Linked DNA regions of Homo sapiens: all the other regions are linked to region 3. Evidence: fine-mapped expression QTL. A gene starts in region 3. Each other region holds a variant in brackets. All regions are shown on one strand. Distances are from middle to middle.

Region 1 (10,942 bases), 110 kb after region 3:
GCCTGATGGCACTGGATACATGAAGCATCCGAAGCTCACAGAGGCTAAGTTACACGCTTAGGTGTTCTTATTCCTACTCTAAGATTTTAATGCCAGTCAAGAAAATTGTAGCACTTTGGGAGGCTGAGGTGGGTGGATCACTTGAGGCCAGGAGTTCGAGACCTGCCTGGCCAACATGGCAAAACCCCATCTCTACTAAAAATACAAAAATTAGTCGGGCATGGTGGCGCACACCTGCACAAGAATTGGTTGACTCTGTCTCAAAAAAATAAGAAAATAATGTTAGCTCAGTGTCCAATACGTGGTAGGTACAGATACATGCTTTTAAAAGTTCAAATTATAATATGGCTCTCAAGGTGTGAGGTTGATAATTAGGGCTGGGACACTTAAGATGGAGAGTCTTTAAAGTGGGGTTAGTGTCTATCCCTATTCTAGTTCCTAAGAAGATATAAGAGGAAGAAAGAGAGTTGCTTTGTTTAGTTTTGTTTTGAGCTTCCTGAACAAAGTGTGTGTGAGAGAACTGATAGAAGAAAGTAGATCTCCACTTTTCAAAGGCGTATTAGCGTCTGCCTTATGCGTGGCACTAAAGGAATAAATGAAGTACGCATAAGATCACCTTTGCTCTTAAGGAACTGAAAATCTTATTAAGTTTTTAGAAGTCAAAAGTCTGAAAGTTGTTAAGACTTGCCAGAGCCTAAAGAACATTCTAAAACCCCTCGTCAGGCCCACACAACCTGACAAAGTGAGCGCATTCATTGACAGTGGCACCCTCCAATCACCCCCAGTACCCTATTCCTTTTCAATTTTACAGGAAGCACAAGCTTGAACAGGGCCCAGACTATAGTCCTATCCTAGATCAAGTCTAGGCAGGTACCTCCTCTTCCCATGGCTCCACTGCTTTTATTCAACCCTATGTAAGGACTGTGGCAGATGGAGAGTCAGCCCACAGTCTTAAACCTCATTCCACAGTTGCACTGGGTGGTTGGAACACAGATGGAGGCAAGGGGGCCATCTTGTCACCCAGAGCCTGAACTGAGTGGGACCTCTACCCATTGTCTCCACTAACAGTCACATGGCCACCTGCTGCCTGCAATTTAGCGTTGCGTTGCTCCTCAAACTTCTCTACCTCTCCCAGAGGAAGTTGGTGAGGTGAAGGAAGGAAGTGGCCAGGAATAACTACACTAACAGCAACCTCGTATCCATAAGTAAGGTTAGCTTCCACTTCCAGCCACCTTCCAGCATTCTGCCCTGGCTCACTGATAACCCTATCCACAAGCACACTTCCACTCCCATCTTTGCAGAAGCCTAGCCCTTCTCCCTAGCCACACAGCTGTATCGTGCATTAGCACTTGAGTTGTATTAAAAATGAATGTAGACCGGGTGTGGTGGCTCATGCCTGTAATTCCAACACCTTGGGAGGCTGAGGCAGGCGGATCACTTGAAGTCAGGAGTTTAAGACCAGCCTGGGGAACATGATGAAACCCTGTCTCTACTAAAAATACAAAAATTAGCTGGGCATGGTGGCACATGCCTCCAGTCCCAGCTACTTGGGAGGCTGAGACACAAGAATCACTTGAACTTGAGAGGCAGAGGTTGCAATGAGCTGAGATTGTGCCACTGCACTCCAGCCTAGGCAACAGAGTGAGAGTCTATCTCAAAAAAACAAAAACAAAAACAAAAACAAAACAAAACAAAGACAACGTAGAGCCAGTCAGGGTGGCAAGAGCACCTGTAGTCCCCACAACTCACGAGGCTGTTCTGTGTAGTAGCTGTGTTCTTAGTATTCCTGATGTGACAGTCAGCTTGACCTATGGATATTTTAGTTAAGATAAAAACGAAGAACAAAATTACCTAATTCAAGAAATTACAGGCTTATCCGGTATATCTATCCATGTTTATTTCCTCTGATGGTTTCAGGTTGATTTCAAAATACTTAACTAAAAACGTATTTCAATTTACTGTTTTTAAAAGACAGTTACCAGTTTAAAAGACAGTTCTGTAAGTCAACTATCAATGCTCAGGTAAATGTATATCTTAATTAAGTTTAACTTACCTCTCCAGGGGGAACACACCTGAAACTAGAGGAACAGCTTATGTGGTCTATGAGGACATCTTTGATGCCAAGAATGCATGTGATCACCTATCGGGATTCAATGTTTGTAACAGATACCTTGTGGTTTTGTACTATAATGCCAACAGGGTAAGTATAGCAAAGTTCTCATTGTGTAGTGATCTCATTTGAGAATTAGTGTAGAACTGGCCGGGCGCGGTGGCTCATGCCTGTAATCCCAGCATTTTGGGAGGCCGAGGTGGGCGGATCACGAGGTCAGGAGATCGAGACCATCCTGGCTAACACGGTGAAACCCCGTCTGTACTAAAAATACAAAAAATTAGCCGGGCGTGGTGGCGGGCGCCTGTAGTCCCAGCTACTCGGGAGGCTGAGGCAGGAGAATGGCGTGAACCCCAGGGGGTGGAGCCTGCAGTGAGCCAAGATCACGCCACTGCACTCCAGCCTGGGCAACAGAGAGACTCCGTCTCAAGAGAATTAGTGTAGAACTGTACTGTGATGATATATGTCTACTATGACTTTCTTTTTTGGCTAATGCTATTGATGAAATTCATTTGGCTGTAGATTGGTAATTTAATTTTGGTGCTTACCACATTTCCAGGCATTTCAGAAGATGGACACAAAGAAGAAGGAGGAACAGTTGAAGCTTCTCAAGGAGAAATATGGCATCAACACAGATCCACCAAAATAAATGTTTTCTACATTTTCATTTGGACTAAATCCCACGAATGACAACTACCACCTTTTTTTCCTTTTTAATTAATACTAAATATTGTGATTTCTTATTTGAGGTTCAAAATGACCTGCTTGAAACTTTGATACATATTGGAATACATTATGTTAATAAACTTGTAGCTTTTTGTGAAACACCTCAGTCTTTTCTCTTGAACTTTCCCTTCCTGTTTGATACCAGGAAAAAACAGTTGAAGCTTATCAAGAATTGTAGGTGCTCCTAGGGATTCTGAGTTTCTTGAGAACAGGATCTCTTTACATTCTTAATGCCTCCAGGGCCCGGTGCAGTGCTTAGCCATCAAAGGAACTTGCTGTTTATTGCATGTCCATTAATAATGAAATCTTCATAACAACTCAGTGAAGATAGGTATTTGCATTTTGCAGGTGAGGAAACCAAAGTTCATGATGTTGGTTGAATGAATAAAATGCTAACATACAAAGCTGGTGTGATAACAACCAGTTATTAACCAAGCCTTTACATTTGAATAATGCTTGCTTTATAGTTAACAAAACACCTGTGTCAATATGGGTACCCTTGTCTTTAGAACAGAGGTCTATTATAGAAATGGTCATTTAGATGATAGTACATTGTTAGAAACTTAGATTTGCCTCTTTAAATTGTTTTTTAATTATTATGGGTACATAATAATTGTCACATTGGTAGAAATTTGAGAGCAAGCTGCTTGGGTAGTGGCGTTGGTTGTTACATGTCTAAGATTGTATTTATGTAGACTTTTCCTTTAGTTATTAAGTATCTGTAGGTATATTGGACCTTAGCTCATAATATATCTTTGCCATAAATACTTAATGCTCATTCTTATTATCATGAGTTCCCATGACATGGAAACAGTATGGTTATTACCCCATTCATCATCATGGCAGCTTGGGAGAATATAGCCGTAATTTGCTTTTTATTGCTTAGGCATGGACCAAATGGAAAAACATGGACTAATTGTTTTGTGTGTGATTGGAACCTAAAATCAATTTGAAGGTACATACACTGAATCACTTCAATGTACAAAGAGCATCAATTCTGCTTTTAATTATATCTGAGTGTTTTTTGAAAGCAGTGTAAGAGAGTAGAGTCATTTCTAAGGGTGGGAAGATAAGAAAGGAGCTACAGCTGTAATTTTCTTTTGAATGCTTTTATGAATGCATTATTAGTTTTTGTAATGCACGGTGTGCCTTTAGGTAATGTAAAAAGAATTTTCTAAAAGACTTTCTTGTAAGAGAAAAACTGAAATTAGACTTTAAAACTTAGAGTGTGATTTGTCTAAGTGGCAGGCTAGCTTGCCTCTGGTGTAGTTGTTTTAATAACAAGGAGAAATTCCTTCTATTAGCAGTCATGACCAGTCCATCATTTGGATTGATATATCTGTTAGCTGAATTTCATGACCTAAAGTTAAGACTTAAAACTTCCCTCTAATTGTTTGGAAATTCCATATCCTGTCGCAATTAAGTTACAAGAACTTGCACTCAGTGGACAAACACTGACTCCCACTCTGCACACAGTACTGTACGAAGATGCTGAGGATATAATTATGATCGGTCCTCTGTGCAAGGCATCCAAAGCTCAATTTTTCAAATGCTTTTAAGAGTGCAACAGATGACTGTGTTTATATGTGCACACACATGTGCCAGAGCTGCTTTACTTTCATCTGGGTTAAATTTTTGAGTTTCTAAGAAAAAAATTCGTAGGAATAGAGAATTCATTGACTGAAAGTCTGAAAACAACTGATGTGACCTTGATCTTATTATTGCTCTTCTGTTTAACAGCTTTAGTGGCTCTCATAGGCCAATGTCCAGACTCATTAGCATACTGCATCATGATTTTCTGCATCATCTTTTAAGAGCTCCAGTAAAATGGTTCATTTCCCAGTTTACCTGCAGAGCCTCACCTGTCCTCTCCAGGTGCTAGCCAGTATGTGTTTGCACTTTGGGGGAGTTCTTTTAGTGGGTGTCTCCTTTGACCCACCTCAGTTATAAATACTCTAGACCAATATCTTTTATATGCCCCATAGTGGGCACCTGAAATAGTCCTTGATGCCATCTTTTGTTATCTTATTGGTGTCACAGCAGAAAATATGCGTATGTCTTTTATGCAGGCTGACTTCTGAGAAATTATTGTAGGCATTTGAGTCATCAAAGAAAGCCAGGAACCAAGACATTCTGAAGGAAATACCCTCTGGCTGGTCTAGTCTCACAATAGAGGTGAGCACAGGGACTTTGGTGACTAAAATGCAAGGCAGTTCCTTTCTCTCGTTTTCTCCATCCTAAAGCACTGCTTCTTCATTAGCTCCTCCACCCTCAGCAAAGGAATACAGCCAGGATTTCTTGGAGACAAAAAAGGTAGATCATGTAGCCAAGATGACATGGCCTCATAGCATATATATGACATCATGTGACATGTATCAGTGGGTCTATGAGGAACACTAACAGTACCTGTTATCAGCCCCTCCGTCCTCAATCTTGAAACAATTCGAAGTCGTCACTGATAGAAAACCGTATTGGCTGAGTGCAGTGATTTAAACCCATAATCCCAACACTTTGGGAGGCTGAGAGAAGATAGCTTGAGGCCAGGAGTTTGAGACCAGCCTGGGCAACATAGTGAGATTCCCCCATCTCTATTTTTTAAAAATAATAAATAAATGATTAAAAAAAAAAAAGAATAACCCCAACTATGGCCAGGAGTTTTTCTCATCCTATACCAACTGAAAGAAAAATGTTTGAGGCTGGGCGTGATGGCTCACACCTGTAATGCTAGCATTTTGGGAGGCCGAGGCAGGCGGATCATAAGGTCAGGAGATTGAGACCATCCTGGCTAACATGGTGAAACTCCGTCTCTACTAAAAATACAAAAAATTAGCCAGGTGTGGTGGTGGGCACCTGTAGTCCCAGCTACTCGGGAGGCTGAGGCAGAAGAATGGTGTGAACCCGGGAGGCAGAGCTTGCAGTGAGCCGAGATCATGCCACTGCACTTCAGCCTGGGCAA[C/T]AGAGTGAGACTCCGTCTCAAAAAAAGAAAGAAAAAAAAGAAAAATGTTTGAGTATATTGCCTCAGTCTCCTATGGCCTATATATAACCTACACCAATAAGTGTGCTGATTTTAAAACCTAACTGGTGTTTCTGGTTAGTTACAATAAATGTTGATGAAATAAGCACTATATGTGGAAACAAGTTCAGAATCATACATTCTTCTCAAAAGTAATTCCTCAATGTAAGTCAGAACAAATCTAGGTGAAACTAAGCAGTGTATGTGAAAACAAGCTCAGAATCACACACTCTTTTCACAAGGAACTTCCCAATGTGAGTTAGTGTACGACTTCAAGCCCTTAACACACCTTCATTTGTTTAGACACAAAAAGTGTTCTGTATCCATCTGGGTGAGTGGAGCTCATCCCTCTGGCTGTAGTCCAAACAAAGATTGCAAGAGCACATAAGGTGCTCAAGTCCCACATCTGATTGCTAGGCTACAAGATTTGGAGCCTATATTTCTTTAGTTATGCAGAGGAGGATTCTGAGCCTGAGATGAGCGGCAGGTAATATCTACTGTGCAGGGTTGCTTAGAGGATCAATGGTAATAATTTAAAAGTATATAGCCAGGCACAGTGGCTCACACCTGTAATCCCATCACTTTGAGAGGCCAAGGCAGGTAGATCAGTTGAGGTCAGGAGTTTTGAGACCAGCCTGGCCAATATGACAAAACCCTGTCTCTACTAAAAATACAAAAATTAGCCAGGCGTGCTGGTGAGCATGACAATCGTTTGAACCCAGGAGGCGGAGGTTGCAGTGAGCCAAGATTGTGCCACTGCATTCCAGCCTGAGTGACAGAGCGAGACTCCATCTCAAATAAATAAATAAATAAATAAAATAAAAAAGTATGTAGAACAAGGCCCAGCATGTAAAATGCTCACATTGTAGCTATTATATTTATCACTCACCTAGCCACTTGGAACCCTCCTTTCTTTCCACTCTTTCCCAAGGGCACCTGGCTTGTGTGGTCCTTAGAGCACTTCCTACCTAAAATAAGGATGGACAGGAGTTTGTCAAGCACAGAGCCTTTATTTTACATTTTCTCAAAGAGGACATTGTTTAAGTGAGCAGCTAACAGAATTTATAAGAGAGAAAGTGACAGCAAAGGTAACTGGCTCAAGTCCCTCTGTGTACGGTACGCCATGTACATTTCATGTCTGAGCACCTTGTGTGTGTGGTTTAAGTGAAGGTAAGGCAGTGTAGATTGTGCGAACAAGAGATCTGTGTTCTGTCATCAGGAAAGGCTACTACATGCATCACACAAAATGCACAACCTGAAATGCTTCAATCTGCAACCGAAGTTTCCTCAAGCAAGAATTCGCATGAACACTGACGAACACATACAGAGCAACTTGGGCAGAGAGAATGGATGATGCCATGAGGCAGTGAGGTTAGCACACTGATCAAGAGCCCCAAAAGCAGGAGCCGTCCCAGTGGCAGAGCAGGCTAGGAGGGTGAGCAGCAGCCATCTCCAGCCACCTTGAGTTCCTTCCTGCCTTCACTCTAAGTTGAGCAGCTCCACGTCAAAGATGAGGGTGGCATTGGGAGGGATGACACCGGGGTGGCCCGTGGCTCCATATGCCACATCAGGGGTGCAGGTCAGCTTCGCCCTCTGCCCCAAGCTCATCTAGCAGGGATGGGGGCAGATGGGGAGAGGAGAAAGAGGACCCAGCTTGATTTAAAAGAAAAAAGTTAGATGACTATGGCATTTTCCCAAACCATCCTCAATGTTAACTCTGAAGATCTCAGATGAATTTTACATGGGATACATTGAAATCGTGCTAACAGCTTTAACAAACGCAGATTCTGCCTCAGCAGAGATGTGACTGTGGGGCAGTAACCCTCACAGAGTGGTCTCAAATTCATGCATCTGACAAACATTACTGGTTATTCAATTTGTGTATGACTGAAACACTTCCATTTGTTCATAGTTCACCCTCTTCCAAAGAATAGGCCTCTTTAGGAAAAGAGGGTGTATGAATAGCACACGTAAATACTCAAGTAGGTGACAGGGGCAGTTATTTAAAGTGGTTTAGAGACTAGAGTCACCAGCAAGGTGGCAAGGGGGACCTATTGTGGCCAACCGTGGTGGCTCACACCTGTAATCCCAGCACTTTTGGGAAGCCAAGGTGGGCAGATCACTTGAGTCCAGAAGTTCAAGACCAGCCTGGCTAATATGGCAAAACCCTGTCTCTACTAAAAAATACAAAAAGTCCGGGCGTGGTGGCTCACACCTGTAATCTCAGCACTTTGGGAGGCCGAGGCAGGTGGATCACCTGAGGTCAGGAGTTCGAGAGCAGCCTGGCAAACATGGTGAGACCCCGTCTGTACTAAAAATACAAAAATTAGCCAGGCGTGATGGTGATGGTGCACACCTGTAATCTCAGCTACTCGGGAGGCTGGGGCAGGAAAATTGCTTGAACCTGGGAGGAGGAGGTTGCAGTGAGCTGAGATTGTGCCACTGCACTCTAGCCTGGGCAACAGAGTGAGACTACGTCTCAAAATAAATAAATAAATAAAAAACAAAAAACAGGCCGGGCACGGTGGCTCGCACCACTTTGGGAGGCTGAGGCGGGCAGATCACGAGGTCAGGAGACCGAGACCATCTTGGCTAACAACGGTGAAACCCCGTCTCTACTAAAAATACAAAAAAATTAGCCGGCCGTGGTGGCGGGCGCCTGTAGTCCCAGCTACTAGGGAGGCTGAGGCAGAAGAATGGCGTGAACCCAGGACGCGGAGCTTGCAGTGAGCCAAGATTGCGCCACTGCAGTCCAGCCTTGGTGACAGAGTGATACTCTTTCTAAAAAAAAACACCAAAAACAAGACCTATCGTAAGGGAGCATCATAGGACTTCACAGACAGACCAAGAAAGAACAGCTTGAACCAGGGCTCATCACAGCAGTTGTTGAGAACCCACTCAGCATTAGTGGGACAATTGGTGAAATTTAAATCTACTTTTGAATTTTGAATAATCAAAAATTTGAATAAGTAAGTAATTTGTATCAGTGTGAATGTCCTGGTTTTGATAATTGTACTATGGTTATGCAAGAAGGGGAAGCTGGATAGAATATAGAAGAACTCTGTACTATTTCTTTAATATTTTTGTAATTCTGAAATTCTTTTCAAAAAAGCGAAAAAACGAAAAATTTTCTTGGCCTACTCCACCCCAACTCTTCCACTACCTCAGTCCCAGGCAACTGGTAGACCTCAGCTAGTTTATTTTTTTGTTTTGTTTTTTTGAGACAGTCTCACTCCATCGCCTGGGCTGGAGTACAGTGGCACAATCTCTGCTCACTGCAACCTTCACCTCCCCGGTTCAAGTAATTCTCCTGTCGCAGCCTCCCAAGTAGCTGGGATTACAGGCATGCACCACCACGCCTGTATTTTCAGCAGGGACGGGGTTACACCATGTTGGTGAGGCTAGTCTTGAACTCCTGGCCTCAACTGATCCACCCCATTCGGCCTCCCAAAGTGCTGGGATTACAGGTGTGAGCCACCGTGCCTGGCTCTCTCAGCTAGTTCTGAGCAAGCCTAGGGGGATGTGCTTGGGATGAGAGCCCCCAGGGACACAAAAGAGGTATGCTGGCAAGGAGAGGGGTGGGGACGCAAAGCCAGGAGGGGACACCAGATGGCGTTGCCATGCCCTGGCTGTAGAGTCAAAGCAGTAGTGGTCTGTGAGTGGGTGAAGGTGGAGGTGGAGGGCAGAGTGCTGATCCCAGATCCCCAACTCCCCAGATCCCCTTTAATGCGAATCCTCATCCTACCTGGGCTGCACCCTCTTCAAAACCTTTGATGACTTCCTGTTTGCCAATTCTGAACTTGAAAGGTTTGTTTCTGTCTCTGGATGAATCAAACTTCTTCCCATTTTGGAGCATTCCTGTCAAAGCAAGAATCGGGTGCAATAGAGCTGTGGTCATGAGTAAACTCCCAATTCAGATTCCACATGTCTAAAATGGAATGCCTTTTCTGCACACACCTGCTCCTCTTCCGATCCTCCCCATCCATCCTGTTGCCCAAGCAGGAAATCTGGACACTTCCTTCTGCCTCACCCCCACATACTGCCTATCACTAAGTCCTCCATATCTTTGGAATCCACCTATTTTCTTCATTTCTATTTTTATTTATTTATTTATTTATTTGAGACAGAATCTCAATTTGTCACCCAGGCTGGAGTGCAGTGGCACAATCTCGGCTCACTGCAACCTCCATCTCCTGGGTTCAATCGATTCTTCTGCCTCAGCCTCCCAGGTAGCTGGCATTACAGGCGCCCACCACCACACTCAGCTGATTTTTGTATTTTTAGTAGAAACAGGGTTTTGCCATATTGGCTAGGCTGGTCTTGAACTCCTGAACTGCAGGTGATCCACCCACCTTGGCCTCCCAAAGTGCTGGGATTACAAGCATGAGCCACTGTGCCTGGCCTTTTCTTTGTTTCTATTACCACGACCAAGTCACCAGCTTATCTCACCTGTACACAGGAACAACCTCCTAACTGGTCTTTTTGATCCTCTTTTACTCGCCTCCATTTCATTGTCCACTTGGCATCCAGACTGATTTTTTTTTTTCTTTAAACACAAATCTGATTCTATTACTCCCCTGCTCAAAATACTTCAATAGCTCCCCAGAGCAGAATCCAAATGCCTACCTTGCATACAGGCACTTCACAATCCGGCTCTGGCCTGCTTATAACCCTCTCTGTTCTCCCCTTCCTTCCCTTCCCTCTGTGTCCTTTTCAGGTCATACCTTTCTCAAATTCCTCTGCACTTTTCAACTTTTTTTTTTTTTTTTTTTTTTTTGAGTCGGAGTCTCCCTCTGTTGCCCAGGCTGGAGTGCAGTGGTGTGATCTCGGTTCACTGCAACCTCCGCCTCCCGGGTTCAAGGGATTCTCCTGCCTCAGCTTCCTGAGTAGCTGGGACTACAGGTACCTGCCACTATGCCTGCTAATTTTTTTATATTTTTAGTAGAGATGGGGTTTTGCTATGTTGGCCAGGCTGGTCTCGAACTCCTGACCTCAGGTGATCTGCCCACCTCAGCCTCCCAAAGTGCTGGGATTACAGGTGTGAGCTATCATGCCCAGCCAGACTTTTCAACTTTTTTATGCCACTTCCTCCA
Region 2 (10,942 bases), 23 kb after region 3:
CTTGGGATATTAATTTTTTTTTTTTTTGAGACAGAGTCTCACTCTGTTACCCAGGCTGGAGTGCAGTGGTGTGATCTCGGCTCACTGCAACTTCTGCCTCCCAGGTTCAAGCAATTCTCCTGCCCCAGACTCCTGAGTAGCTGGAATTACAGGCATGCACCACCAGGCCCGGCTATTTTTTGTATTTTTAGTAGAGACTGGGTTTCACCATGTTTGCCAGGCTGGTCTCAAACTCCTGACCTCAGGTCATCCACCCGCCTCAGCCTCCCAGAGTGCTGGGATTATAGATGTGAGCCACCATGCCCGGCCAGAATTTTTTTTTTAACTTTCCATGATATTCTGATATAAAGCCAAAGCTGAAAAATACTGCTATAAAATTGAAAAGGTCCTTAAGTCATCTGTGTAATAGTACCTACCAAATAAAATTTCTGTGAAGATGAAACAAAATTAGCACATGTTAAGAAGTGTATAACTCATTCTATTCATCAGCACATAAAATGTTCTCCAAGATAGACCATATAATAGGCCACAAAACAAGTGTCAGTAAATTTAAGAAAATCAAAATTATATCAAGTACTCTCTCAGACCACAGTGGAATAAAATTGGAAATCAACTCCAAAAGGAACCCTCAAAACCATGCAAATACATGGAAACTAAATAGCCTGCTCCTGAGTAATCATTGGGTCAACAATGAAATCAAGATAGAAATTTAAAAAGTCTTTGAACTGAAGGATAATAGTGACACAACCTATCATAACCTCTGGGGTACAGCAGAAGTGCTAAAAGGAAAGCCTACATCACAAAGACTGAAAGAGCACAAACAGACAATCTAAGTCCACACCTTACAGAACCTGAGAAACAAGAACCATCCAAACCCAAACCCGGCAGAAGAGAAATAAAGAGATCAGAGCAGAACTAAATGAAATTGAAACAAACAAACAAACAAAAAATACAAAAGATAAATGAAACAAAAAGCTGGGGGGGGGGGGGCGGAAAGAAATGTATAACAGTGTCTGGTACATCAGAGCTCAATAAATAATAAATGTTATTATAGATTGGACATGAGAATGGGAATTTGGTTTATGGGAATGTTTAGGAAGGGGCAAATTATTATTATTTTTATTATTTTTGAGATGGAGTTTTGCTCTTGTTGCCCAGGCTGGAGTGCAATGGCCCGATCTCGGCTCACTGCAACCTCTGCCTCCAGGGTTCAAGCGATTCTCCTGCCTCAGCCTCCACAGTAGCTGGGATCACTGGTTTGTGCCACCATGCCTGGCTGATTTTTTGTATTTTTAGTAGAGACGGGATTTCACCATGTTGGCCAGGTTGGTCTCAAACTCCTGACCTCCGGTGATCTACCTGCTTCAGCCTCCCAAAATGCTGGGATTACAGGTGTGAGCCACCACGCCTGGCCAGAAGGGGCAAATTAGAAGGAGATTTAGGAATGGATATGACAGAGCCCAGTGCTGGATTAAGTAAAGGGATAATGAGCAATAAAGAAGAACCCTGATATTTCCCATAACCAGGAACACAAAAAAAGCAAGTTAGATGCAAAAGATGACAAGCACGACTCGCTCACTTTTGGATAGGTTGAATTTGACTTATGTGTGGAAAATAGACAATTGAATATTTGTGACCGGAACACAGAAGGCACACACATCTTGCTACAGTCTTCTGAAGACATTCCAGCATTCCAGAACTGTCTTAGTCGTTAAGCACTTGAGCTTCTTCCCAATCTCAGACTCCTGGCCCCATCAGCACCTTCTACATAAGGCTATGGGATGTGGACCCCAAGTGTTCAGGCTGGAGACTGAAAAGTGGCATCACAATTATCCTCAAAATTTGAAAAATATATTGAAGAGAAGCTGTTCCTCTATAGGATATATAGGAAATTCCTCTATAAGAAATAAAAATATGAGCATGGTGGCCGGGTGCAGTGGCTCACGCCTGTAATCCCAGCACTTTGGGAGGCCAAGGCAGCGGATCACCTGAGGTCAGGAGTTCGAGACCAGCCTGGCCAACACGGTGAAACCCTGTCTCTAACAAAAATACAAAAATTAGCCGGGCGTGGTGGCGGATGCCTGTAATCCCAGCTGCTCGGGAGGCTGAGGCAGGAGAATTGCTTGAACTGGGGAGGCAGAGGTTGCAGTGAGCCAAGATCAGGCCACTGCAATCCAACCTGAGCAACAGGCGCGAAAATCCATCTCAAAAAAAAAAAAAAAAAAAAAAAAAATATATATATATATATATATATATATATGCATGGTCTTCAATGACTTCTGGCACACACTTGCTTAGTGTGTAAAGACTAAGATTCAGTAAAAGGGCTCATAGAAGAAGCCAGTCACCCGCAAACACGCCAGCCCCCATAAGGCTAGAGAAGTATGAGGTCATAGAAGATAATCTGACAATCATCTAAAAAGGACATTTTCTTTATCACATTAATGACCACCAGTCATTAATGGTGGTCATTAATAAGTAAGTAAGGGTGGAAACAAACAGTGTGACTGGAACTCACTGTATGCCCATTAATGTGATTTGCTCACTACAAAATCAATATTCTAAATATCATCTTACTACATGATCAGAGTTAAACCTATTATCACTGTATGCCCATTAATTGCTCACTATAAAATCAATATTCTAAATATCATCATCTTAATATACCATCAGAGTTAAACCTATTATAAATAGACTCCTGGTTTGGATGGAACCTATTTAATTACTAGAGCTAGGATTATGATGCTCAAAGTAGACAAAGAAAAAAAGTAACAGCCATTGTTTCGAAATTCTGTTTTAAGGTTTATTTCTGTCTTATGTAACATTCACAATGCCATTTGTGGCCACTTTTTAAAAATAACAAATGAAATGATTTTAGTTCTGCTTCCATTTGGGATGTAGAAAGCATCCTAAAATAGAAATAATGATGCTCTAGAAATAATGGTGCTCTCACCCCAAGGGCAAAAAAAGGCCAGATAATCTACAAAAACATAACTTTTATTGAGCCCATCAGATTTCAAGGCAAAGAAGTAAACTGAATTCCAAAGACAAGTCCCTCCCACGAGAGGCAGGACACAAAACCTGCTTCGCCTTTGGTAGAACATGAGAGGAAAGGGTGGCTTCTTCTCTTTTTCCTCTCATGCTCTCATCCTCAGATAAAAAAAGAAAAACATTGATGATTAGCTGGACTTTATTAAAATTTAAAATGTGTGCTCTGCAAAAGACACTGTTAAGAGAATGAAAAGATAAGCCATAGGCTGAGAGAAATTATTTGCAAAATATATACCTGATAAGGGACTTACATTCAAAATATACGAAGGATTCTTAACACTCAACAATAAGAAAACAAACAACCCATTTTAAAAATGATCAAATGATCTGAACAACAGACACCTCACCAAAGAAGACAGACAGATGGCAAAAAAACATGTGAAAATAGTATATGGCAAAGAAACATATGAAAAGATGCTGGAGGCAGAGCAAGATGGCAGAATAGAAGCTTACACCCTTTATTCCCCGCACTGGAACAACAAATTTGAACATCTATCTGCACACAGAAAAGCACCATCACCAAAACCAAAAATCAGGTGAGCAATCACAGTACCTCGTTTTAACTTCATATCACTAAAAGAGGCATGAGGAGAGCAGGAGGGACAGTCTTGAATCACTGATGCCACCTCTCTCCTATTCCCCAGTCATAGCCGTGTGGTACAGAGAGAGAGTTTGTACATTTGGGGAGGGTGAGCCCAGTGAGTAGGGGACTTATGCTGAATTCGGTTCTGCCCTGTCACAACAGAGAATAAAGCCATGCTGGGCTCAGCCAGCACCCGCTCAGGAAGCCAACATTTGGACCAGCCTTAGCCAGAGGGAAAGTGCCCATCCCAGTGATTGGAACTTGAGTTTCTCCACAAGCCTCACCATTGTGGGCTGAAGTACCCTGGGCTCCTAGGTAAATTTGAAAGGCAGTCTAGGAACAAGGACTGTAATTCCTAGGCAATTCCTCATGTTGGGCTGAGCTCAGAGCCAGAAAACTAGGGTGGCACGTGACCTAGGGAGACACCAGCTGGCATGGCTAAGGGAGTGCTTGCACCATCCCTCTCCCAACCCCAGGCAGTGCAGCTTGCAGCAACTCCAAAGGTGACACCTTCCTTCTGCTTAAAGGGAGGAGAGTGAAGAATAAAGAGGACTTTGTCCTGCATCTCGGATACCAGCTCAGCCACAGCAGGATAGAATAGCAGGCAGGGTCCTGCGGTCCCCATTCCAGGCCCTAGCTTTGGGACGACATTTCTAGACACATTCTGGGCCAAAAGGGAATCTGCTGCCTTGAAGGGAAGGACCCAACCCTGGCAGGATTCATCACCTGCTGACTAAGGAGCCCTTGGGCCCTGAAAACCAGCAGCAGCGATACCCAGGGAGTATACTGGGGGCTCTGGATTCTGAGATGTGCTGGCTTCAGCAGTGACCCAGAACATTCCTAGCTGTGGTGGCTATGGTGAAAGACGCCTTCTGTTTGAGAAAAACAGAGGAAAGAGGAAAGGGAACTTTGTTTTGCACCTTAGGTCCCAGCTCAGTCATAGTAGGATAGAGCAACAAGCAGGCTTTTTGGGTCCCTGAGTCTGGGCCTGGGCTCTTGGACCGCATTTCTGGACCTGCCCTCAACCAAATGGGAGTCCATTGCCCTGAAGGGTGAGTCCCAGGCCTGGCAGCATTCACCACAAGCTGAAGGGAAGAGCTCTTGGGCTTTAAGTAAACATCGGTGGTGACCTGGCAGAATCCCCATAGACCAGTGGTGGTGGTGGCCACAGGGAGAGGATTCTCTGCCTGTGTAAAGGGGAGGGAAGAGTGGGAAGGATTTTGTACTGTGGTGTGAATGCCAGCTGAGCTGCAGTAGAAAAGACCATCAGGTAAACTGCTAAGGTTTTTTTTACTTCAAGCCCTGGCTCCCAGACAGCATCTCTGGACATGCCTGGGACCTGGGGAACTCACACCCTGAAGGGAAGGGCCTTGTGCAAGACTCGGTGCTATACTAGACGTCTTCAGGTCTGACCCAATGCGGCACCAGTAATGGTGGCCACAGGGGTGCTTGCATCATGACACCCCCAGCTCCAGGTGGCTCAGCACAGAGAGAGAGACTGTTTGTTTGGGAGAAGGTGGGGGTAAATATCAGGAGT[C/T]TCTGCCTAGTAACCAGATAACTCTTCTGGATCTTATCAAAGTCCACAAAGGCAATACCTCTATGAGTCTGCAAAAACCACAGTATTATTGGGCTTGGGGCCCAAATCCCTTCAAACACCTGGAAAGCCTTCCCAAGAAGGACAAACCCAGAATGTAAAGACTACATTACCTAACTCTTCAATGCTCAGACACTGATGAATATCTATAAGCATCAACACCATCCAGGAAAATATAGACATACCAAATGAACTGAACAAGGCACTAGGGACCAATCCTGGAGAAACAGAGATATATGACCTTTCAAACAGAGAATTCAAAATAGCTATTCTGAAGAAACTCAAAGAAATTCATGATAACACAGAGAAGGAATTCAGAATTCTATCAGATAAATTTAACAAAGAAATTGAAATAATTACAAAGAATTGTCTGGGCGTGGTGGCTCATGCCTGTAATCCCAGCACTTTGGGAGGCTGAGGCAGGCAGATTACCTGAGGTCAGGAGATTGAGACCAGCCTGGCCAACATGGTGAAACCCTGTCTCTACTAAAAATAGAAAAATTAGCCAGGCATGGTGGCACACATCTGTAATCCCAGCTACTCGGGAGGCTGAGGCAGGAGAATTGCTTGAGTCCGGGAGAGGGAGGTTGCAGTGAGCTGAGATCATGCCACTGCACTCCAGCCTGGCTGACAGAGCGAGACTCTGTCTCAAAATAAATAAATAAATAAAAATAAAAATACAAAAATTAGCCAGGTGTGATGGTGCATGCCTGCAATACCAGCTAAGTCAGGGAACTGAGGCAGGAGAATCGCCTGAACCCAGGAGGCGGAGGTTACAGTGAGCCGAGATTGCACCACTGCACTGCAGCCTGGGGGACAGAGCAAGACTCCGACTCAAAAAAAAAAATTGTCTTGGGCCACACAGAAACACATAAAATACACTAACATTAATGATAGCTAATGAGCTAAAAAAAAAAAAAAAATCACCAAAAAATCTCATAATGAGGCCGGGTGCAGTGGCTCATGCCTGTATTCCCAGAACTTTGGGAGGCCAAGGCGGGTGGATCACCTGACGTCAGGAGTTTGAGACCAGCCTGGCCAACATGGTGAAACCCCATCTCTAATAAAAATACAAAAAATTAGCCGGACGTGGTGGTGGGTGCCTGTAGTCCCAGCTACTCAGGAGGCTGAGGCATGAGAATCACCTTAACCCAAGAGGCAGAGGTTGCAGTGAGCCAAGATCACACCACTGCACTCCATGGACCCTGGGTGACAGAGCAAGACTCTGTCTCAAAAAAAAAAACAAAAAACAAAAAACAAAACAAGCAGAAATTCTATAGTTGAAAAATGCAACTGACATGCTGAAGAATACATCAGAGTCTTTTAATAGCAGAATTTATCAAACAGAAAAATGTATTAGTGAGCTTGAAGACAGGCTATTTGAAAATAGACATTCAGAGGAGACAAAAGAAAAAAAGAATAAAAAACAATGAAGCACATCTGTAAGATCAGGAAATAGCCTCAAAAGTGCAAATCTAAGAGTTATTGGCCTTACAGGGGAGATAGATATAGAAGTAGAAAGTTTATTCAAAGGGATAATAACAGAGAACTTCCCAAGTCTAGAGAAAGATATCAACATTCAAGTAGAAGAAAGTAATAGAACATCAAGCAGATTTAACCCAAAGAAGACTACCTCTAGGCATTTAATAATCAAACACCTAAAGATCAAGAATAAAGAAAGGATCCTAAAAGCATCAAGAGGAAAGAAACAAATAACATACAATGGAGCTCCACCACATCTGGCAGCAGACTTTTCAGTGGAAACCTTACAGGCCAGGAGAGAGTGGCATGACATATTTAAAGTGCTGACATGGCCAGACATGGTGGCTCATGCCTGTAATCCGAGGATTTTGGGAGGCTGAAGCAGGTGGATCACTTGAGGTCAGGAGTTCAAGACCAGCCTGGCCAATGTGGAGAAACCCCATCGCTATTAAAAATACAAAAATTAGCTGGGTATGGTGGTGCACAGCTGTAATCCCAGCTACTTGGGAGGCTGAGGCACAAGAATCACTGGAACCTGGGAGGCAGAGGTTGCAGTGAGCCGAGATTATGCCACTGCACTCCAGCCTGGGTGACAGTGAGACTCTGTCTCAAAAAAATAATAATAAAATAAAATAAAGAAATAAAGTGCTGACAGAAAAAAACTTTTACCCTAGAATAGTATTATCCAGAAAAAAAAATATCCTTCAAGCATGAAGGAGAAATAAAGACCTTTCCAGACAAACAAAAGCTGAGGGATTTCATCAACACCAAACCTATCCTATATGAAATGCTAAAGGGAGTTCTTTAATCTGAAAGAAAGGGATGTTAATGAGCAAGAAGAAATCATCTCAAGATACAAAACTCACTGGTGATAGTAAGCACAGAGAAAAGCACAGAATAATATAACACTGCAATGGTGGTGTGCAAATACTCTTATCTTATTAAATAGAAAGACTAAATGATGAACCAATCAAAAATAATTACAACAACTTTTCAAAAAATAGTATAATAAGACACAAAGAGGAACAACAAGAAGTTAAAAAGCAGGGAGACAAAGTTTAAAGTTTTCACTAGTTTTCTTTTTGTGCGTTTGTATATGCAATCAGTCTTAAGTTGTCATCAGTTAAAAATAATGGGTTACAAGATAGCATTTACAAGCCTCATGGTAACCGCAAATCAAAAAACCAGTAACAGATTTACAAAAAATAAAAAGAAAGAAAGCAGGCCAGGTGCAGTGGCTCACACTCCCAATACACACAGAAACCAATACTATGGCATTAGATTTTTGAGAGAAGAAAAGCCTTATTACAAATCAACCAACAAGCCGGGCGCAGTGGCTTACACCTGTAATCCCAGCACTTTGGGAGGCTGAAGTGGGTGGATCACCTGAGATCAGGAGTTTGAGACCAGCCTGACCAATATGGTGAAACCCCGTCTCTACTAAAAATACAAAAATCAGCTGGGTGTGGTGGCATGTGCCTGTAGTCACAGCTACTCAGGAGGCTGAGACAGGAGAATTGCTTGAACCTGGGAGGTGGGGGCCACTGCACTCTGACCTGGGCGATAAAGCAAGACTCTGTCTCAAAAAAAGAAGAAGAAAAAAAAACTACAATGAGTTATCATCTCTTCCCAGTTAAAATGGCTTATATCCAAAAGTCAGGCAATAACAAATGCTGGCAAAGACGTAGAGAAAAGGGAATGCTTGCACACTGTTGGTGGGAATGTAAATGGGTACAACTACTATGGAGAACAGTTTGGAGGAGCCTCAAAAAACTAAAAATAGACCTACCACGTGATTCAGCAATCCCACTGTTGTGTACACACTCAAAAGAAAGGAAATCAGTCTATTGAAAAGATATCTGCACTCCCATGTTTGCTGCAGCATTGTTCACATTAGCCAAGATTTGGAAGCAACCTCAATGTCCATCAACAGATGAATGGATAAAGAAAATGCACTTACACGCAATGGAGTAATATTCAGCCATAAAAAAGAATGAGACCCTGTTATTAGCAACAATATGGATGGAACTGGAGGTTATTGTGCTAAGTGAAATAAACCATGCACAGAAAGACAAACATCATATGTTATCACTTATTTGTGGGATCTAAAAATCAAAACAATCGAACTCATGGAGATGCAGAGCGGAAGGATGGTTACCAGAGGCTGGGAAGTGTATTGGGAGGGTAAAGGGTAAGTAGGGATGGGGTTAATGGGGACAAAAAAATAGAAGGAATGAATAAGACCTCGTATATGATAGCACAACAAGGGGACTATAGTCAATAACACTTTAACATACATTTAAAAATAACTAAAAGGGTATAATTAGATTCTTTGTAACATGAAGAATAAATCATTGAGGGGATGGATACCTCATTTTACATTATGTGACTATTATGAATTGCATGCCTGTATCAAAACATCTCATGTACCTCATAAATATATACACCTACTATGTACCTACAAAAATTAAATTTACAAATTAAAAAAAAAGGTATCAAGACTCCTATTCCTATACTAAGCAGAAATCTTGCTGTCGTTGGAAGACAGACAGGACACTGCCATCCAAGAACAACCACAGATACAAGGTCAAGTTTGGCTGCCACAAGGATAAGGAAAAGGAACCTCAGGAAAGTCCTGCTTCTGAGGCCTAAGCACATAGGGCTTGTCTAAAACTGAAGCTCCATGAGAAAAACATGGGATATTCCTCTGCGTCCACTAGAAGCCTTGCAATAAGCAACATGCAACAGTGGTATACTCCCGTGGGAGAGGGAAGAGCATGGAGAGAATACCCCTCCACTTCTATGATGCCAGCTTGCATGGATAGCTGAAAACTGAGGAAGGAGCAGAAACACTTGAGAAAATCCCTCTGGCACCCCACCCGCACTCTAAGCACAAGGAAAAGCAGCCTAACCACTGGAGGTATTCAAGCCTGTGATGCACTAAAGGTAACAATAGCAATAACATTACCCAAACCCAACTCAATTCCAACTAGATAAGGCTAATCCTCCACACTAATGCTTGACAGAAGAAGAGGCATATCCATTTCTAGACATAAATACTCCATGTACACCATTCTTCTACATCAAATATCTGGCATTCAATAAAAAATTACAAGACATGCAAAAAAAAAAAAAAAAGGCAAGGCAAAACAAGCCATTGTCAAGAGATAAAGCAATCAAGAGAACTAGATTCATAAATGACCCTAACATTAGAACTACCAGATAGGGAGTTTTAAATTATTAATATGGTAAAGAATCTAGTGGAAAAGGTGGACAACATGCATGAACAGATGAAGAATTTCAGAATAAATAAAAACTATCTAAAAATTCAAATGGTAATGCTAGAAATTTGAAAATCATGATATCAAAGATGAAGAGTTCCTTTGATGGGCACAGGACACAGCTAAGGAAGGGCAGTGAACTTAAAAACAAGTCAGAAATCATCCAACTGAAAAACAAATAAGGAAAAAAAGAGTGGAAAATCAGAACAGAGTAAGAGCTATGGCACTGTGAGACATCATCAAGTGATCTAATATACATATAATTGGAGTCTCAGGAGGAAGAAAAAAAGTAGACAGAACAGGAAATAAGAAATATTTGAAGTGATAATGGCCTAGGATTTCCCCAAAATAATAAAAGACATAAAACCACACATATGAGAACCTCAGAGAACATTAAGATAGACAGAAAAAAACAAATATAAACAGATCATAATCTAGCTAATGAAAACCAAAGAGAAACAGAAAATCTTGAAAGTACCCAAGAAAAAAGAAACATCACATACAGAGAAACAAAGATAAGAATTATGGATTTTTCATTGAAAAATGAAATTTTCAGAGTGAGACTCTGTCTCAAAAAAAAAGAAAAATGATAATTTTAAAAAATCATAACTATGAAAAATGTTATATCAGTCTGAAGAATTTTCAAAGTCCAAAAGGTTCTATAATTTCTAGTATATTAACCATTACCTTCTCCTTCTACAAAATTCACTTTCTATGTATCTTGTAGGCAGTTTCAGCCACTCGTTTGGAGTTATAAAGTGCCTTGAATTAGAAATTTGTGGGAATCTGGAATGCAGCTGAACCTTCTCAACTTCTTTGAATTCCTTTATTGAATATATTTTGCCTGAAGGAAGAATAAAAATCTAAATTAACATCCTTAAATGCATCTGCCATTGCTCTTGGGCTATGAAATCACATAACAATTAGGAACTAAGTACCAGTCTCACACTG
Region 3 (10,942 bases):
TCCATGAGGCAGGTACTTTTTTTGGTAATTTTAACCTCAAGAAAGTCCGTCCTTAGGTTGAGTTTAAATCTGCCTTGTAACTTGCAGGTACAGACACTAGTTCTACACATCTAATTCATCGGCTAATGTCGGCCTTTAAAATACTTAAAAGGTTCATTCCCCCTCGTGTCATTTCCTTGGGCCAAATACCCCACCTCTTTCCAGTTTTCTTCCTATAAAGTGGTGTCAAGACTCAACTCTTTTCTAAAGGTTTTGCAACTGATGAGGGTCCCTTCAACAGTGTGACATCAGGAATGACAGGTTAAGGACAGGATAGACCAAGACTCTGATGCTTCCCACTCTAAGCACAGCCTCTCTTGCCTGAGAGATGTATGTTTTCTTGGAATCCAGCTCATATGGTTGATTCACAACGACTTTACTGACATTTAAAATTACTTGGACTTCAACACATGCCATTTCTAAGATCTTCCTCCCTATACCCATGAAATCACATTTCTGGACACAAATATAAGACTTTGCACTTTGGAGATCTGGATTCAATCTTGAGCTCTGCCCCTTAAGAGTGTGTAGGAAAAAGTATTTAAGGTAAATATTCAGAAATTGTGCTCAGTAAATATACTTAAATGTTCTAATATTTCAGCTAACCTACTCTAGGGTCTCACTGTCACTCAGGATGGACTGCAGTGACACGATCATGGCTCACTGCAACCTCCGCCTCCCAGGCTCAAGTGATCCTCCCACCTCAACCTCCCAAGTAGCTGGGACTACAAGTGCACAGAACCACACCTGGGCTTTTTTTTTTTTTGTACAGACGGGTTTTTGCCATGTTGCCCAGGCTGGTCTTGAACTCCTGGACTCAAGCAATCCATCCACCTCAGCCTCCCAAAGTGCTGGGATTACAGGGGTGACCCACTGCACCCAGCCACTACTCTAGATATCTACTAGATATGTGGGGGTAAGAAAGATCCAGTAGTGCACACCTAAAGCTAACAGATTTGTATTTGATACTGCAAATAGAGAGACCCAAATTCTGAGAGCTGACCTCAAAATAAAAAAAAATCTCTAAATTAAGAAACCAAATTTTTGTAAAGCCAAACTGTAGAACAGAGTATAGAAACTGTTAGTCCTAATACCTACTGGTTGGCTAAGTCAGCCATGCAATACCATTCTCCTCTGCCCACTTCCTACTAGAGAGATGAGAAAGCCACAGTGGCTTTCCAGGCCCTGCTTATGGCTAGGACTTGCTTCATGACCCAGTCCTGGCCAATGAGACCTAAGGGAAAGTTGGCTAGGGGCCTCTGGGGACTCTTTTTGCTTCCTGCAAAGGAGTAGGGTAAGAGAAGAGGCCCCTGGCACCATTCCTTACCCCTTCCTCCTGCCCTGAATGAAGACCTAATGTCTGGAGCTATAAGCAACCATCAGGCAAATGTGAGAATGATGGGGATAAACTGAAAATACTAAGGATAGCAGAACAGAATAGGAAAAAACCTGACATTGTTATGCTGTCAGAACCCACCACGAGACCACCTACCTCTTAATTTCTTGTGAAGTAAATGCCCTTATGGTTTAAGCCACAGTAACTCCATTAACGTCTACATAAAAATCATTCCTGATAAATCTAGTTCCAAATCAACACTCCTATCCCCTCCAACCTCAGGCTTAAGAATGCAATACGTGTGTTACAATTCAATGAACTCATCTTAAATATAAAAATAAGCTGGAAACTATTTGTATAACCAGTGAAATTGTTAGACCAACTCTTCAAATTATACTCTATTTGAAAAATAAAACATCAGTACCATTTTATGTCTGTGCTGTAAATAATATTCAACATTCTCGTTTCATTTTAAGCTCTTTATATGAAATTACTTTTTCCATAATTCTCTGCTGAAGAGGCTCTGCAACATTTTCAACCCATTTTTTATGTAACATCTCTTTTCTTCTTTCCTTAAAAGTATCCACATGCTGAAAATACATATCCAATCTCTAGTGAAGTGATACAAAAAAGGAAAATAAATTATAAAGAAATGTTTCATTTACTATCATTCGAGTAAGGGGGAAAAAAAAATTTGTTCTCTCTACTAAGCTCTCAGCCACATTCGGGTTGCAAAGTCCCAGTATAAGATAACTGAAGCACAGAATAAAGTGCAGTAAGAGAAGCTGGGAACACAGAGCAGAAGAACTCATATAAACTTCTAAACCATAACTGTGCCTTCAGATTTAACCACATCTAACTCATGAATCAGATTAAGCTATTCCTAACTCATGAAACTCTTGTTTCTTTTTCAGGATTTCCAAGCATTCCCTGGTCACCCACTCTGTGTCTAGCCTTCACCATCAGGAAAGTCTGGGACAAAACTGGTAGAGTAGAAAGCGCACTAGACTTTGACACCTCTCTCTGGCCTGTGAAAGAGAGGTAATCCCATCTACCTCTTTGGATGCTTAAATGGGAATTTATGTGCACTTTCTTTACACATTGTAAATCACAATTCAAATGTCAAAGTTTTATTCTTTTTTGTTTAAAAGACAGGGTCTCACTCTGTCACCCAGGCTGGAGTATAGTGGCATGATCACAGTTCACTACAGCCCCAACCTCCTGAGCTCAAGCAATCCTCCTGCCTCAGCCTCCTGAGTAGCTGGGACTACAGGCGTGTGCCACCATGTCTGGCTAATTTTTTAATTTTTTTGTAGTGACAGGGCCTCACTATGTTGCCCAGGCTGGTCTCAAACTCTCAAACTCCTGGTTTCAAGCAATACTCTTGCTTCAGCCTCCCAAAGTATTATTATAACTCCGTCTCTCTCATTGAAATTAAATGCCCCTTAAGCTAATTTCGTAGTGACTATCAGTTACTGATTGGTCATAACCCTTAAAAGCTTATTTTGTTTCTAGTGGTTTTACTGCAATGTGGGAACATATGAGAAAGAGGCAAGTGTGAGTAGGAAAGAATTTCTATTCGGTACCAGGACGAAGAGAAGGAGCAATTGGAACAACTTCTCAGATCCCTTCAGGACAGATCCAAGTGGGATCAGGGACCTTTTAGTGATCCTGCAAGAAGGGGGCATGGCCTCAGATGCATGTAGTACAAACAAGTAAATTAGAGGATCCTCATTACTCCTGCAAAATGAGTCTCTTGGATCACGGTGACATAAACTCTTGGCCATGTTGTTCTGCACACTCTTGCTCCCCTAGAACATATGTAGAATGCAGCGTGGAGCCAACTCTTACCTTCACAATGGAATTTTCTTTAAATAATATTGCACATACTGCTTCATCAATGTCTTCTCTAGCTAATACCTAAAATTACAGAATTGAATATTAAGATGTGAATCCTGAAGAAACAAACTACAATGACAAAACTCAGTGTACTTTACCAATAGTTTTAGTGTAAATCTTGAGGCTTATTTGGTAACATAAAAATATGGAAAATTTCTAAACCCATTCTCTGTGAACTTGTCAGCCAGGCTCGAGTGATTAATTCCAAGTCAATCTTATTTCATCCAATAAATCCCTACTCATTTTTCAGCACCCCCCCACCCAGACTATTTAAAAAAAATCCCTGATAGCATATTATTAAATTACGTTTTAAAGCACTAAAAAGCTTACTAAAGGAATCCTCTTTTCAGGCATTCAGTAGGTGTTTTTTGTTTGCTTGCTTTTTGAGACAAAGTCTGGCTGTCACCCAGGCTGCAGGGCAGTGGTATAATCCTGGCTCACTGTAACCTCCGCCCTCCAGGTTCAAGTGATTCTCCTGCCTCAGCCTCCCAAGTAGCTGGGATTACAGGCACATGACACCACAGCTGGCTAATTTCTGTGTTTTTAGTAGAGACAGAGTTTCACCATGTTGGCCAGGCTGCTCTCGAACTCCTGACCTCAAGTGATCCACCCACCTTGGCCTCCCAAAGTGCTGAGATTATAGGCGTGAGCCACCCCACCCAGCTAGTAGGTGTGTCTTAAAGGGCCCTTGAAGTTTCCCGCCTTTTGCTAGATCTCTTCATAAGTCAAAAACCACAGAAAGTTCCCTTTAGTTCAACTGGTCCAGAATCTCAGAGCTAATTAGTGAGAGCTCATGGCCTCCAAACAACATCATCCACATCTAGGGACTTGCTATTTCCATTATGAGTTTGGGTAAAGCTGATGCATTTTAATCCCCACTTTAGGGCTTTTTCAGTTGGATCACTATGCACTAATCTCTAGCTTTTATTCTTATAGGACTAAGTGTGAACAAATGAAAAGGCAATGAAAATCCAGTATCTGGAAGAGATAAATTGTTACATTAAAAATTATTGCTGATGAAAAATGATACAGGTTCTTAGAACTGTTATTCAATTTCTGATTCTTCTTTCTATTCTGCCACACTGAATGCATCACAACAAACTAAACCCCAAACTCAAATACCAAATCTGTGAATAAGAGAAATCTCAAAAAAGGAAAGTTGTTCTTTTTACCCACATATTTAATAGCTTCACATGAGATCTAAAATGATATTCAAACAGCTGCCCAGGTCTTCCTAAAATAAAGCTCTCTTTGTAATAGGAACAGGATCTTGCTTTAAAGCCTTCTCAGACTTATTTTAAGAAGACAGGCCAGGCAGGGTGGCTCACGCCTGTAATCCTAGTGCTCTGAAGGCCCAGGCAGGAGAATTACTTGAGCCCAGGAGTCTGAGGTTACAGAGAGCTATGATTGGGCCACTGCACCCCAGCCTGGGCTACAGAGCAAGAACCTGTCTCTAAAATATTTTTTTTAATTAAAATGAAGATGGCAACTGAAAAAGTATGTAAAACAATTAAACATGTATCCTGACACTACAATAAAAATTTAGAATCTATTTATTTATTTGGAGAAGCAGAACATATTGACAAGCATCTTGGGAAGTCACCTTCTTAAAGAACATCCTAGTAAGATTGTTAACAAATGTTATGTACATTCTTGAGTCAGATTCTCAAATAATCTTTGTTTAAAGAAATTAAACAGTTTTTGTCTTTGATGGCTCTTCTTTGTGATTTTGCCAGGAAATATAAGGAAAAGGTCATGATTTGCAGCAGCACTTTTCGAAATCCACAGCTTTCTGTGCACACACATAGAAAAATTAAGCATCTCACTGCTCCGACCGCCACTAGGGCAAAAGGGGAAAAAGAAAGGAAATTTCCAAGAGTTTTTCACAGCGAGGCAAATCATAGGATGACACAAAATAATGAAACTTTTTGAGAAAATCATTACCAGACGCTGAAGTATGCAGAATTGACTGGCAAGCCCAGACCTGGCTTCTGCCGGGGAGCTGGGGTGGCTGCCTTCACCCGCCCGGCTGCCCGCCCCCGTCGGTGCGCCAGCCCCCAGGCTGGCGACTGGAAACACTCTTGGCCACACTCTCGGCCAAATCTGAGCCCGAACATTCCCCTTCAACGCCTGCTTTAAAGCAGGCACTGTCACAATCCTGAGAACAGAAGCGAAATTAAGATAAACAGTTCCCAAACTCGAGGGGTCCCCCCGCCAAAATGACGTCTCAAAACGCCACGTTATCTCACCTCCATTAAAGAAACGGACTCGGGCTCCGGCCATTCTCTTAACTTTTCTGGCCTGAAATGTTCATCATAACTCGCAGTTTTGGTGGCAGCCATGGACAGGAGAATCCCTGAGGGATGAAAAGGTAAACTGAGGCTGAGGAAGACGGTTACCGTTGAGAGCCAGGCCTTTGGGCTCAGGGAGTGTTCAAATCCCGCTCGGCCCCTTTCTAAAAGCTGAGCCGAGTCACCCAACAAACTGGGATCCTTGGCGCCCTAGGCGCTTCAACAGGCCCGGCTACCCACTCCCGTGTCGTCCTCGGGCCAAAGCGGGCCTTTCCTCCGGGGCGCGCCCCCCTGGCCCTGCCACAGCCCTCCCTGGGCTCCGCGACCCCCAGGCCCGTAGGCCTCCCCGGGCCCCACCTCAGGCCAGCTCCGGGGGAAGTCGCAGGCCCCGCGGCTCCGTCCCGGTAGGGCTCCCCCGAGGCCGCGTCCTGGAGCGGCGACGGAGAAAGGAGCCCGCGGGCCCGAGCGTCGGGGCGCATGCGCCACGCCAGATCCCGGGGTGCTGCCCCGACGCCAGCTGGACGGTGACGCCGAAGTCCCGGGAAAAGGAAGGGCGCCATTTGATTTCACAGCAAACGGGCGGTGACACCGACTTCCCGGGAAAGGGAAAGGCGCCATTTGATTTCACAGAAAACGGAAACGCAGTGATGAAGCCCAGCGCCTGGCCCTCGCCCTCCCTCCACGTCTGTCTCGGGGGCGCCCTCCCCTCGCAGGAGCCAGGGCACGCGGGCCTTCAACCGCCGAGGCCCCCGCCGCCCTTCTGGACTTTTATCGAGGCATGTACACTAATACGAAAGAGAATTTGCCATTTACCTGTAAGATTGAGGGTGACAACGTAAGAGGAATGGTTTTAAGTGACGCGTCCGGCTCCTTACTCCCACTGAAGGGTGAAGGTGCCACAGGTGGACCTGGTTTGGATTCTGATGTGAAGAAACCGACTTCAAAACATTTGGGCCAATCAGGAAAATGCGAAAACTCTGACTACAAATTTAATGATATCTAGAATTATTGTTAATAGTTTAAGGTATGGTACATTATCACAACCAAGATTTGACATAGCTACAGTCAAGATACAGGATATTATCTTGTATCAGGTGTATCAGGACACCACTACAAGGATTACTCTGTTTTCAGCCAATGTTTCTTCAAGTATGTTTTTTAGTCCTGCCTGTTTCTCTCGTCCTTCTGGGATTCTGATGACATGAATATTATTATAGCCCCCACAGCCACTTAAGCCTCTCTTCTTCCCTCCACCCCCAGTCTATTTTCTCATTTTTTAAGATTGGGTAATTTTTATTGTTCTATCTTCCAGCTCACTGATTCTTTCCTCCATCTTCTCTATTCTACTGTTGAGCTTAACTGCTGAGCTTTTTATTTTGGCTATTGTAATTTTCAGTTCTACAATTTTCATCTGGTTCTTCTTTGTATCTCCTGTTTGCTCAGGATTTTTATTTTTTCATTTGCTTCAAGTGTATCCATATTTGCTCATTGAAGCAGTTTTCTCATAGCAACTTTAAAAGTCTGTGAGCTTATTCTAACATCTTTGTCATCTCAGTGCTGGTCTCTATTGAAGTCTGAACATTTTCAGTTTATATTATGAGACTCTGGATCTTATTTAAACTTTCTGTTTTAGCTGGCTTTCTCCAACACCAATCTAACAGGGTTAATGAGGTTACCACCTCATTACTGCCAGATGGAGATAGGAATCCAGGTGCCCCAGTTGGCCTTCATTGACACTTGAGGGGCCAAAGTTCCTCATTACTGCTGTGTAGACCATGATTTAGAGATTCTAGTCAGGCTAACTGAGAGACCATTCAGCAAATTACTTCCTTATATGGTATAATCTTCTCGAGAAAAGGAGCTGAATCTATCTCATCTTTACATCTTTCTCATAACATGGGACCATCTATGACTGACCCAAATAGCAGGCGAACAGAAAATTCCTGTTGAGTAGACGACATACACAGAAAAGTATAATATACTGATGGCTTAAACTACATTAAGTATAAGCAAAAGGTGATACAAAATAGGATTTTTAATTTCTACCTAGCTTCTTCCTTACTTCATTTGAAAATAAAAGTTTCCCTGATTTACTGAATCAACTTATTTCAATCTCATATGATTTAAAAGCTTACCTGAGCATTTGTCTCTTTACTTGATGTTCCCTGGCAATGTCGCCTTTTTTACATGGTGAAAATAACTGTTAAGGATTTGAAAGATTCTCCTTTCAATAGGTAGTGCTTCACTGAGTCTTCACCTAGGCTCTTGCTGCAGGCTCTGTGTCTCTTTCTACATACCACAACTAAGTCAGTTAATCTCATAGTATTAAAATCTTTTGTTACTGTTTCTCCCACTAACTTTAGGGCAGAGAGCCTATGTTGGCTCATCCTTATATCCCCAGAACCTGGCAGAGCACCTGGGAAAAACAGGCACTTAAATACTTACTAAGTGAATGATGAATAAATAAATGAATGAGACATAATCCCAACATCTACACAAAATGAAATTTCAATGTCAACATATGAAAAAAACATTTAAGAGACTGAAGACTTGTCTACCAGGAGAGCATCAAGCCTTTTGAAGCTTTGCAGTCGGCCTCTGGTTGCCATTTTGGCATAGCTAGTATTTTTAGTCATTTATAACTGTAATAGAGAAAAGCATTTCTATCCAAAAAGTCTCTTTAAATCAAAAAGTCTAGGCCAGTCATGGTGGCTCATGCATGTAATCCCAGCACTTTGGGAGGCCGAGGTAGGAGGATCGCTTGAGGCCAGGTGTTCAAGACCAGCCTGGGCAACACAATGGGACCGCGTCTCTACAAAACGTTTAAAAATTAGCTGGGCATGGTGGCAGGCACCTGTAGTCCCAGCTACTCAGGAAGCTGAGGTGGGAGGATCACTTGAGTCCGGGAGGTTGAGGCTGAAGCAAGCCATGCTTGTATCCACTCCAGCTGGGAGACAGAACAAGACCTTGTCCCAGAAAACAAAACAAAAGTCTCAATGTTTGTGAAGTGTACATGTTAACCTTAACCATAAGAACAAATTTGCACCTAGATTTTTATTTTAAAAGTATGATATAGATTTAGGCTACCTGTTATAAAGAAAACTTAAGAAATTTCTAAATTTACTTGAACGAAGGAAAGGCTATGGAGAAGGCAGTAATGACTGATTCATGGAACAGAACTGATTTACCGAGACTTTTCTCCTTCTATAAAAAGTCAAGGTGAAGTAACAATATCCCTTTAATGCTGATGTGATTTCTAGAAGTCTGTTTTGACTGATGAAGTAATATAAAAGGGAAAAAATGCCAAGAACTAGAGTATTATAAAATCCTTCAGGGTCTCCCCATAAATTCCAAACGCTTTAGCATGACCTGTAAGATTCCTGCCTGTCTTTTTGGGCTCAGCTTTCTTCAGTGATTCCTGGCCTCCTTGCTCCACATGGTGGATTAGAGATGCCTGCGTGGTCCCATCTCTGGCAAATCCCTGACTCCACTCACAGAGGTAGACTTTTTTTTTTTTTTTTTGAGATGGCGTCTCTTGCTCTATTGCCCAGGCTGGAGTGCAGTGGCGCAATCTTGGCTTACTGCAGCCTCCCCGTCCTGGGTTCAAGCGATTCTCCCGCCTCAGCTTTTCTGAGTAGCTAGGCTTGCAGGTGCCCCCCTACCATGCCCAGCTAATTTTTGTATTTTTAGTAGAGATGGGCTTTTGCCATTTTGGTCAGGCTGGTCTCAAACTCCTAACCTCAGGTGATCCACCCTCCTCGGCCTCCCAAAGTGCTGGGATTACAGGCGTGAGCCACTTCACCTGGCCAGAGGTGGACTCGATGGCAGCACCTCCCTGTTCTTCTCTGTGGCTAATTGGTCAAGGAGTGTACACCTGACCCAAGTCTAGGATCAGATTCTCCTGTCTTTCTTCTAGGATTATAGACGTCTAACCAAAACAGAGACTTGGAAAGGTGTTGTGAGTCACGTTCATGACAACAGCCTAGAAGGGTCTGAGATGCCTGCTGCTCAGGGGCCAGTGCTGTCAAGGTTCCTGCCATTCCTGTGGAATTCAGTTTTTTCTCAGGGTTCTGTAAGATGCTTTGGCACTCTTTCAATGAAATTTTTTTTTTTAATCCCAACCACTAGACCACCAGGGACCATTTGTGCTTATGTTAGCTCTGGTTAGCTTGTTACTTGCAATACAAATGATCTCAAATAATACAGAAATAGTACAAGGCTTCAGAGGAAATGTGAGATATTTGGAATTGGTATTCGTGTCAAAGTGCAGGGAAAGGAAAGGCATCTTCTCTTCACCATGTGGAATGAGCAACTATATTTGTGATACGACATCTGGGATTTGCTTCAAAGTCATCCAGTTAGGGTTGAGAAGTAGGTATGCATATACACAAAACAAGACTGGACATGAGGTAATCAGTATTGAAGCTGGATGTCAGAAACATAAGGATTCATTATACAATTATAATTATTTTTTCTGTAATTCTCTGAAATTGTGCATAGTATAAAGTTTTAAAAATCTAGTTTTCAGCCAGGTGCAGTGGCTCATGCTTGTAATCCCAGCACTTTGGGAGGCTGAGGCGGGTGGATCGCTTGAGCCCAGGAGTTCAAGATCAGCCTGGGCAACATGGTGAGACCTCATCTCTACAAAAAATACAAAAAATTAGCCAGGCATGATGGCGTACACCTGTAGTCGTAGCTACTCGGGAGGCTGAAAGGCGGAGAATTGCTTGAACCTGGGAGGTCCAGCCTGCAGTGAGCCATGATCATGCCACTGCACTCCAGCCTGGGCAACAGAACGAGACCCTGTTTCAAAAAAAAAAAAAAAGAAAGAAAGAAAGAAAATCTAGTTTCACTTAGAACCATATATTGATTAGGGGTGAGATGTTGGGAGACTAGATAACTGTCAGGGTAGAATAATTTAAAGAGGATGAGGAATATGGAATGAGAGAAAAATGGATAATTTAAAGCAAGATAATATAAAGCTCAGATGCCAGAATGTGCAAGGCATTAAAATATAGGGCCACTATTTTTAATAAATCTTATTCCATCTGTGGCCCTCAAGTTCATAAATTGATCCTGTAGGTTGCTGAATTGCAATTCCAGATGGATTAACATTGCTGCCAGTCTTTTATATGAAATCTAGGGCATTGACTAGGAAAGAGGGGGATCTTGGAATTATATATATTTGGGGAACAGACAGAACTGAAGAAGTCAGACTCCCCCAAGTCTTTTGAAAAGGTTACCATGGTGTCCCTTTGCCTAAGGAAAACAGAATTCCACTCTTCTATGCTCTGTGTCCTACTGTGTCTTCCTGTGACCAAGATTCAAACTCAACATGAGCCAGAGGGCAATGTTTAGAATCAGCAAGTGAGTAATT

Which allele goes with the higher level. Positions count from the first base shown, and alleles are read on the strand shown. Sizes are in standard deviations (SD) of each study's normalised expression.
For the expression in tibial nerve of the gene that starts at base 6,044 in region 3, allele C in region 1 goes with a lower level than allele T (moderate effect, 0.57 SD a copy in GTEx).
For the expression in vagina of the gene that starts at base 6,044 in region 3, C is the high allele of the variant in region 2 and T is the other (moderate effect, 0.42 SD a copy in GTEx).

What was found.
Region 1: its variant is fine-mapped to the expression of FAM228A in tibial nerve (GTEx, PIP above 0.99).
Region 2: its variant is fine-mapped to the expression of FAM228A in vagina (GTEx, PIP 0.95).

What each region holds. Positions count from the first base shown.
Region 1 is chr2:24,059,579-24,070,520 of GRCh38, reverse strand. It overlaps FKBP1B (FKBP prolyl isomerase 1B), which reads right to left. Exons shown (of 4, transcript NM_004116.5): 3 at 9,595-9,707; 4 at 6,840-7,457. The coding sequence ends at 7,329. SF3B6 (splicing factor 3b subunit 6) reads left to right here. Exons shown (of 4, transcript NM_016047.4): 3 at 2,062-2,200; 4 at 2,670-2,935. The coding sequence ends at 2,759. Among named protein-coding and RNA genes, the nearest start is that of SF3B6, 11 kb to the left of the region's middle. RefSeq lists an enhancer at 9,444-9,583. The variant C/T (reference allele first, on the strand shown) is at 5,793.
Region 2 is chr2:24,146,823-24,157,764 of GRCh38, reverse strand. FAM228B (family with sequence similarity 228 member B) reads right to left here. Exons shown (of 11, transcript NM_001145710.2): 6 at 10,930-10,942; 7 at 10,679-10,835. Among named protein-coding and RNA genes, the nearest start is that of FAM228A, 23 kb to the left of the region's middle. The variant C/T (reference allele first, on the strand shown) is at 5,172.
Region 3 is chr2:24,170,155-24,181,096 of GRCh38, reverse strand. It overlaps FAM228A (family with sequence similarity 228 member A), which reads right to left and starts at 6,044. Exons shown (of 6, transcript NM_001040710.3): 1 at 5,923-6,044; 2 at 5,524-5,630; 3 at 3,227-3,295. The coding sequence starts at 5,616. LOC105374328 (a long non-coding RNA gene) reads left to right here and starts at 6,301. Exons shown (of 4, transcript XR_939833.4): 1 at 6,301-6,589.